Homo sapiens: one gene and its partner. The protein of the gene in region 2 interacts with the protein of the main gene of each other region in a biochemical or structural test. Each region holds a gene or a part of one and is shown on either strand. Other genes may lie near its edges.

Evidence for each region.
Region 1: the proteins of GPI (region 2) and AMFR form a complex in vitro, tested with the Homo sapiens proteins (one study listed by BioGRID).

Annotation. Positions count from the first base shown.
Region 1 is NC_000016.10:56,408,546-56,412,045, forward strand, and holds part of AMFR (E3 ubiquitin-protein ligase AMFR), read right to left. Parts: intron 1,044-3,500; coding exon 879-1,043; intron 1-878. UniProt on the Homo sapiens protein: E3 ubiquitin-protein ligase that mediates the polyubiquitination of lysine and cysteine residues on target proteins, such as CD3D, CYP3A4, CFTR, INSIG1, SOAT2/ACAT2 and APOB for proteasomal degradation.
Region 2 is NC_000019.10:34,371,441-34,375,464, reverse strand, and holds part of GPI (glucose-6-phosphate isomerase), read right to left. Parts: intron 1-4,024. UniProt on the Homo sapiens protein: In the cytoplasm, catalyzes the conversion of glucose-6-phosphate to fructose-6-phosphate, the second step in glycolysis, and the reverse reaction during gluconeogenesis.

The DNA of each region.
Region 1 (3,500 bases), on a different chromosome or scaffold from region 2:
AAATGCAATCCAGGCACAGGTTTACCACTACTACAACGTGATGTCAGCATTATGCAAGGAGAGGCAACAGTCTGAAAAGAAGGCCTAGAGCTGCAACTCCTGAGGTCACAGGCGGAGATTAAAAAAAACAGTTTGGGAGGTTAGAAGCTCCTGTTTGTGACTTCAAATGAGGGTTGAATGTGAAAGAAATAAAGGCTGTGAGAGTGAGATTAACTCAAACCAAGGTGCAAGGTCCATGTGGACTGGGTAAAGACAGGGAAAAACAAGGCCCTGGAGCGGGTTTAACTGAGGGGCAGCACTGTAGATGCACATTTATCTGGGACTCATGAGACTACTTCAGGTCACTAATGGGTTGAAGGTTCACTCATACAGCTATGATCTGAAACCAAGTGACAGATCTTGTACCAGACATAAAATGATTCACTTCGCAAACAAGGAAGCTGAGGGAGCTAATTCAGTCCTGGCCCGGGGTGGAAATAGTATAAACTACTCAGAAAGAAGAGCTCCACGAACCAGAGTAAGCTGGGAGAGACAGAAGGAGACTAGAACAGAAAATATCTAGAAAAGACCAGATTTTATTGTTTATGTATCAAGGTTTCCTTGCACTGTGAACAAAACAGTCTGCATAGGTGAAGTGACCCCATGTTAGCAGTAAGTAAACACTATGGGGTTGGGAAGAAAGCTCCCCAGGAGACAACGATTCTGCATCTCTTGGCTGCTGTAGAAAGTTCTTCAAGAAACAGGCAATGGGGGCCTGATCTAGAAGTCTTCCCAGAAGAGCTACCCTGACCATGCCTGCTGTGGCTCATTCACATTACACAATTCAAAGTTGGCAAACGTGGTGACTAAGCAAGCAAAAAGCTTGGCTAAAAACTCACATATTCAAATCGATCCTTGCAGAGCTGAACCATCAGGTGCAGAAAGACAAGTCCGGCAAACCAGAGGCACCACATGACCACCTCTTCCACTGTCTGGACATTCAGCACACCAAAGATGAAAATGAACTTGTAGAAAATAAAATTCCAAAATTTGTCTTTGAGATGCTAAAAAAGAAAAATGTTTATGAAGGTGAGTACCATCACACCTACCCCATTTGAGGGAAGTTACCATAACAAAAGCCGGCTTCTATGGAAGATATATTCTGCACTTGGCTTTCTAATACTTGTCCTCAAGAAAACAGAAAAAAAAAAAAAAAAAAAAAAAGCAGCCATCTGAAGAATGGAGGTAAGACACCCAGAAACTAATCTGTAAACTTTGGACTATAACCCTAAATCAATTATGGAATGTTAGCTATTCAAAGGATAGCGATATTAGTTTAGTAACTTATATATTAAGAAATAGGCCAGGCGCAGTGGCTCATATCTGTAACCCCAGCACTTTTGGAGGCTGAGGTGGGTAGACAGCTTGAGCTCAAGAGTTTGAGATGAGCCTCGGTAACATGGGGAAACCCCATCTCTACCAAAAAAAAAAATACAAAAATTAGCTGGGAATGGTGGTGCACACCTGTAGTCCCACCTACTCAGGAGGCTAAGGTGGGAGGATTGCTTGAGCCCAGGAGGTCAAGGCTACAGTGAGCCATCATCATGCCACTGCACTCCAGCCTGGGTGACAGAGCAAGACCTTCTCTCAAAAAAAAGAAAAAAATGCTTACATTTTTAATGCACAATGAAAAAGAATGGCAAGGGCTATCATTTTTACTACTTCTACCTTCCAGATTCTTACACAATAGAAAAGATTAGACTTTGTAAAAAAAATTCTTCAAATTAAAAAATAACACAACACAACCACTTGCCAGCCCATAATAAAGGCGGCATAAAAAGTACAAAGAAAATGAAAAATGCTGCCTTAACATTTTTATGAATTTTCTTGTCTTTTCCCTATGTACAAAACACATTACTTTTTGTACAATGCTTTCTTTCACCTATTGTATTGTTAGAACCTTAACAATGTCAATGAATATTCTCTGAATATACCAATATACCGTTTCAATGGCTAAAGATGGACACTGAAACTGTTTTAAAATTTTCACCACGCAAAAAAAACATTATAATGAGGGCCGGGCGTGGTGGCTCATGCACGAAATCCCAGCATTTTGGGTGGCCAGGGCAGGCGGATCACTTGAGCCCAGGAGTTCGAGACCAGCCTGGGTAACATGGCAAAATCCTGTCTCTACTAAAAATACAAAAATTAGCTGAGCATGGTGGCACAAGCCTGTAATCCCAGCTACTTGGGAGGCTGAGGCATTAGAATTGCTTGAACCTGGGAGGTCGAGGTTGCAGGGAGCCATGATCATGCCACTGCACTCCAGCCTGGGCAACAGAGCAAGACTCTGTCTCAAAAAAAAAAAAAAATTGTGATGAATATTTTTGTATGTATCTTTGTATGAGTTACTTCAGCACTGTCAAATCAAAAATTGCAAAGATTTTTATGGTTTATAGTAAAATCTACCTAACTTCCAAAGCAGTCCTGTAAGTGTACATTCCCATGGGCAGTGTGTATGCATATTTGCTTCACTGTACTCTTTTACACAGAGGGCTTCCAGTTTTAACAATCTTCACTAACCCTGAAATAGGAGAGCAATAAGGAGGGTCTAGTTCCCCCACATGTTAAAATAGACTATCAAGCCGTCTAGGGGGGTCAGGGAGAACTGACTGAAGAGGATAAGAATGGAAGCATGATTCTAAGTATACTTTTTTTTTTTTTTTTAAAGAGACAGAGTCTCACTCTGTCATCCTGGCTGGAGTGCAGTGGCCCAGTAGTAGCTCACTGCAGCCCCAAACTCCTGCGCTCAAGCGATCCTCCCACCTCAGCCTTCTGAGTAGCTGGGATTACAGGCACATGACATCATGCCCGGCTAATGTTTTTTATATTTATATTTTGCAGAGATGGGGCCTCCCTCTGTTGCTAAGGCTGGTCGCAAACTCCTGGGCTCAAGTGATCCCACCTTGGTCTCCCAAAAGAATGCTTTTATATGTAATTTGGAACCATGTAAATGTTTCACAAATTCAAAAAATAAACACAAAAAAGCAAAATATACTACAAATTAACAACGTGACTCCTTAAAGATTTTGAGAACTTAAACACACTGTACTCTGACCAGATATCTTTTGTAGAGAACAAAATAAAGTGGAAAAAAATCATAGAGTATGCCCTAATTCTATCCATCAAAAGGGCAGAGACACCCTAGTGGTAATGAGCACACTCAGCCAGTATACAGCTTGGCTTCTAAATATCATTGCCCAATAACGTGAACTAGGAATCGTTGGTGAAATGTCTGTTTCCAGACCTGGTGCAGGGAAAGTACAAGGTGAACTTAGGACATTTTGTGCCCTGGTTTTGAATGACACTGCCACTTGGCTCTGCCATTTAGTTTCTGTGTGACCTTGGGAAAGTCACTTAACATCCCTGTGCTTTAGTTTCCTCATCCATACAATAGGTCTTATAATAACAGCATATACCTCATAGAATTGTTGGGGGAATTATACATAATATATGTGAAA
Region 2 (4,024 bases):
ATAAAAGTTTACTGCTAGGCCGGGCATGGTGGCTCACACCTGTAATCCTGGCACTTTGGGAGACCAAGGCAGGCAGATCACAAGGTCAGGAGTTCGAGACCAGCCTAGTCAACATGGTGAAACCCCGTCTCTGCTAAAAAAAAAAAATACAAAAATTATCCAGGCATGGTGGCGTGTGCCTGTAATCTCAGCTACTCGGGAGGCTGAGGCAGGAGAATTGCTTAAATCCAGGAGGCAGAGGTTGCAGTGAGTGGAGATCACGCCATTGCACTCTAGCCTGGGCGACAGAGCAAGACTCCGTCTTAAAAAAAAAAAAAAAAGTGTATTGCTGTTTTAACCCAAGTTTTGATGTCATTTGTTATACAATGATAGATAACTAATACAGATTTTGGTATCAGAAGTACAGTGTGGTCATAATAAAAACCTAAATATGCAGGCCGGACTCAGTGGCTCATGCCTATAATCCCAGCACTTACTGGGAAACTGAGGCAGGAGGATCACTTGAGGCCAAGAGTTTAAAACTAGCCTGGGCAACATAGCAAGACGTCATCTCTACAAAAAATAAAAAAGTAGCCAGGCATGGTGACATGTGCCTGTAGTCCCAGCAACTTAGAAGGTTGAGGTGGGGAATTGCTTGAGCCCAGGAGTTCGAGGCTGCAGTGAGCAGTGACTGCACCACTGCACTCCAGCCTGGGCGACAGTGTGAGACCCTACCTCAAAAAAAAAAAAAACAAAGAAAAAAAGAAAAAAGAAAGAAAAGAAAAGAAATAATTATCCCATACATACCAGTCATCCCATGCCCACCTCACCATTGTATGCTGGGTGTGTGAGGGGTAATTTGTCTCTTTAAATTCTCATGTCTTCAGATTGAAAGGAACTGTACTAAAGGAAATGCAGGTACTACTACACCTGTACTTGACAAAATGAGGTTCTAGACTTCTAACAGACTTCTAATACTGTAACAGAATATGGACTTAGGAGAAAGTGAGTGGGGTATCTGTGTGTGGAAGGAACAAAATCAATCACTAGGCGCCAGAAGCGGGACTATGATAGTCCCCCACCTTCTAAGATGGTGACCAGTGGTCCTTGTCTCCTGGCATTAACCCACTGATGCAGTCCCTTCCCATGATGACCAGAGCTGATCTGTAACACCAACGGGGTATTATAGAAATCAAAGAGTGTAGCCGGGCGTGGTGGTTCACCCTGTAATCCCAGCATTTTGGGAGGGCAAGGCAGGCGGATCACTTGAGATCAGGAGTTCAAGACCAGCCTGGCCAAAATGGTGAAACCCCATCTCTACTAAAAAAATTTAAAAAAAAAAAAAAAAAAAAAAAGGCGGGCATGGTGGCGGGCACCTGTAATCCCAGCTACTCAGGAGGCTAAGGCAGGAGAATCGCTTGAGCCGGGGACCGGAGGTTGCAGTGAGCCAAGATCACGCCATTGTACTCTGGCCTGGGTGACAAGAGTGAAACTCTGTCTCAAAAAAATAAAAATAAAAAAAAGAAAGAATGTGAATCCTGATATTAGGTCACAAAAGACCTCCAGGCATCTGCCTTACTCTCTATTGGATCACTCACTCTGGGAGAAATAAGCTGCCTTGTCATGAGGACACTCGAACTGTCTGTGCCTCCCAAAGGCAGCACTGCTAGTGAGCCATCTTCAAAGCAGACCCTCCAACCCCCATGAAGCCTTCAAATGACCACATCCTTAGCCAACATCTTGACTGCAACCTTAGAATATCAGAGCCACTACACCAAACACAGCCACTGCAAATTCCCCACATAAAGAGACGGTGATTGTTGCTTCTAGTTGCTAAATTTTGGAATAATTTCCCACACATCAATAAAAAATTACTATACACTAATAAGATCCAGCAATTTTCTTTTAATTTTTTTTTTTTTTTTTTTGGAGATGGAATCTTGCTCTGTCACCCAGGCTGGCATGCAGTGGTGCTATCTCAGCTTACTGAAACCTCCACCTCCCGGGTTCAAGCGATTCTCCTGCCTCAGCCTCCCAAGTAACTGGGACTACCGGCATGCACCACCATGCCCAGTTATAAATTTTTTTTTTTTTTTTGAGACAGAGTCTCGCTCTGTCACCCAGGCTGGAGTGCAGTGGCGCCATCTCAGCTCTCAGTAACCTCCACCTCATGGGTTCAAATGATACTGCTGCCTCAGTCTCCTGAGTAGCTGGAATTATGGGCGCCTGCCACTACTCCTGGCTAATTTTGTTTGTATTTTTAGTAGAGACGGGTTTTGCCATGTAGGCCAGGCTGGTCTCAAACTCCTGACCTGAAGTGATCCGCCCACCTCGGCCTCCCAAAGTGCTAGGACTACAGGTGTGAGCCACAGCACCCAGACTATAAATTATTTTTTAATTAAAAAAAAAAAATAGGCTGGGCACGGTGGCTCACGCCTATAATCCCAGCACTTTGGGAGGCTGAGGTGGACAGATTATGAAGTCAGGAGTTCGAGACCAGCCTAGCCAACATGGTGAAACTCCATCTCTACTAAAAACACAAAAATTAGCTGGGTGTGGTGGCAGGTACCTGTAATCCCAGCTACTCGGGAGGCTGAGGCAGGAGAATCGCTTGAACCTGGGAGGCGGAGGTTGCAGTGAACCGAGATCAGGCCATTGCACTCCAGCCTGGGTGAAAGAGAGAGACTCTGTCTCAAAAAACAAACAAACAAAAAAGAGACAGGGTCTAGGTTGCCCAAGCTAGTCTTGAACTCCTGGCCTGCAGTGATCCGATTCACCCTTCCAAAATGCTGGGATTATACAAGAGCCACTGCACCTTGCTGGGTATTTTTTAGTTTTGTTTTAACGACAGGGTCTCGCTCTGTTGCTCGACCTGGAATGTAGGAGTATGATCATAGCTCACTGCAGCTTCAAATTCCTGGGCTCAAGCAATTCTCCCGCCTCAGCCTCCTAAGCAGCCAGGACTATAGGTACACACCACCACAGCTGGCTAATTTTTAAATTTTTGTTAAAGGCAGGGTCTTGTTATGTTGCCCAGGCTGGTATTATACTCCTGGCCTCAAGCAATCCTCTTGCCTCTGCCTCCCAAAGTGCTGGGATTACAGATGTGAGCAACTGTGCCTGGCCCTACTTTTTCTTTAAATAAACTGCCATGGGAAAATTTCCATCAATACAGAAAGAAATAAAATAAGTTGTTCAACTTCTCAACCCTCCCTCACAGGCGTGTGACAAAAGAGGTTAGAAAAAGCAAGTCTTGGCTGGGTGTGGTGGCTCATGCCTGTAATCCCAGGACTCTGGGAGGCCAAGGTGGGTGGATCACCTGAGGTCAGGAGTTCGAGACCAGCCTGACCAACATGGTGAAACCTCATCTCTACTAAAAATACAAAAATTAGCTGGGTGTGGTGGCGGATGCCTGTAATCCCAGCTACTCAGGAGGCTGAGGCAGGAGAATTGCTTGAACCTGGGAGGCGGAGGTTGCAGTGAGCCGAGAACTCGCCATTGCACTCCAGCCTGGGCAACAGAGTAAGACTCTGTCTCAAAAAAAAAAAAGCAAGTCTCCTTTCCCGACTGTCAAAGGTTTGTTATAATGAAGCATCCCAGAGGAAAAATGTGTCTTTTTTTTTTTCTTTTTGAGACAAAGTCTCACTCTGTTGCCCAAGCTGGAGTGCAGTGGCGTGATCTTGGCTCACTGCAACCTCCACCTCTGGGGTTCAAGTGATTCTCCTGCCTCAGCCTCCCGAGTAGCTGGGACTACAGGCATGCACCACCATGCCAGGCTAACTTTTTTGTATTTTTTTTTAGTAGAGATGGGGTTTCATTATGTTGGCCAGGCTTGTCTTGAACTCCTGACCTCGTGATCCACCCACCTCGGCCTCCCAAGGTGCTGGGATTACAGGTGTGAGCCACTGCACCAAGCCAAATGTGTCTATCTTTATTACAATTACACCCAGCCTTCATTTGACCAAATGAGTCTTTACCATACCCACCAATTCTGCAACTTCCTTTTTCAACTTCCCAGTCCATCCTGAACAGCATGGCAGATCAA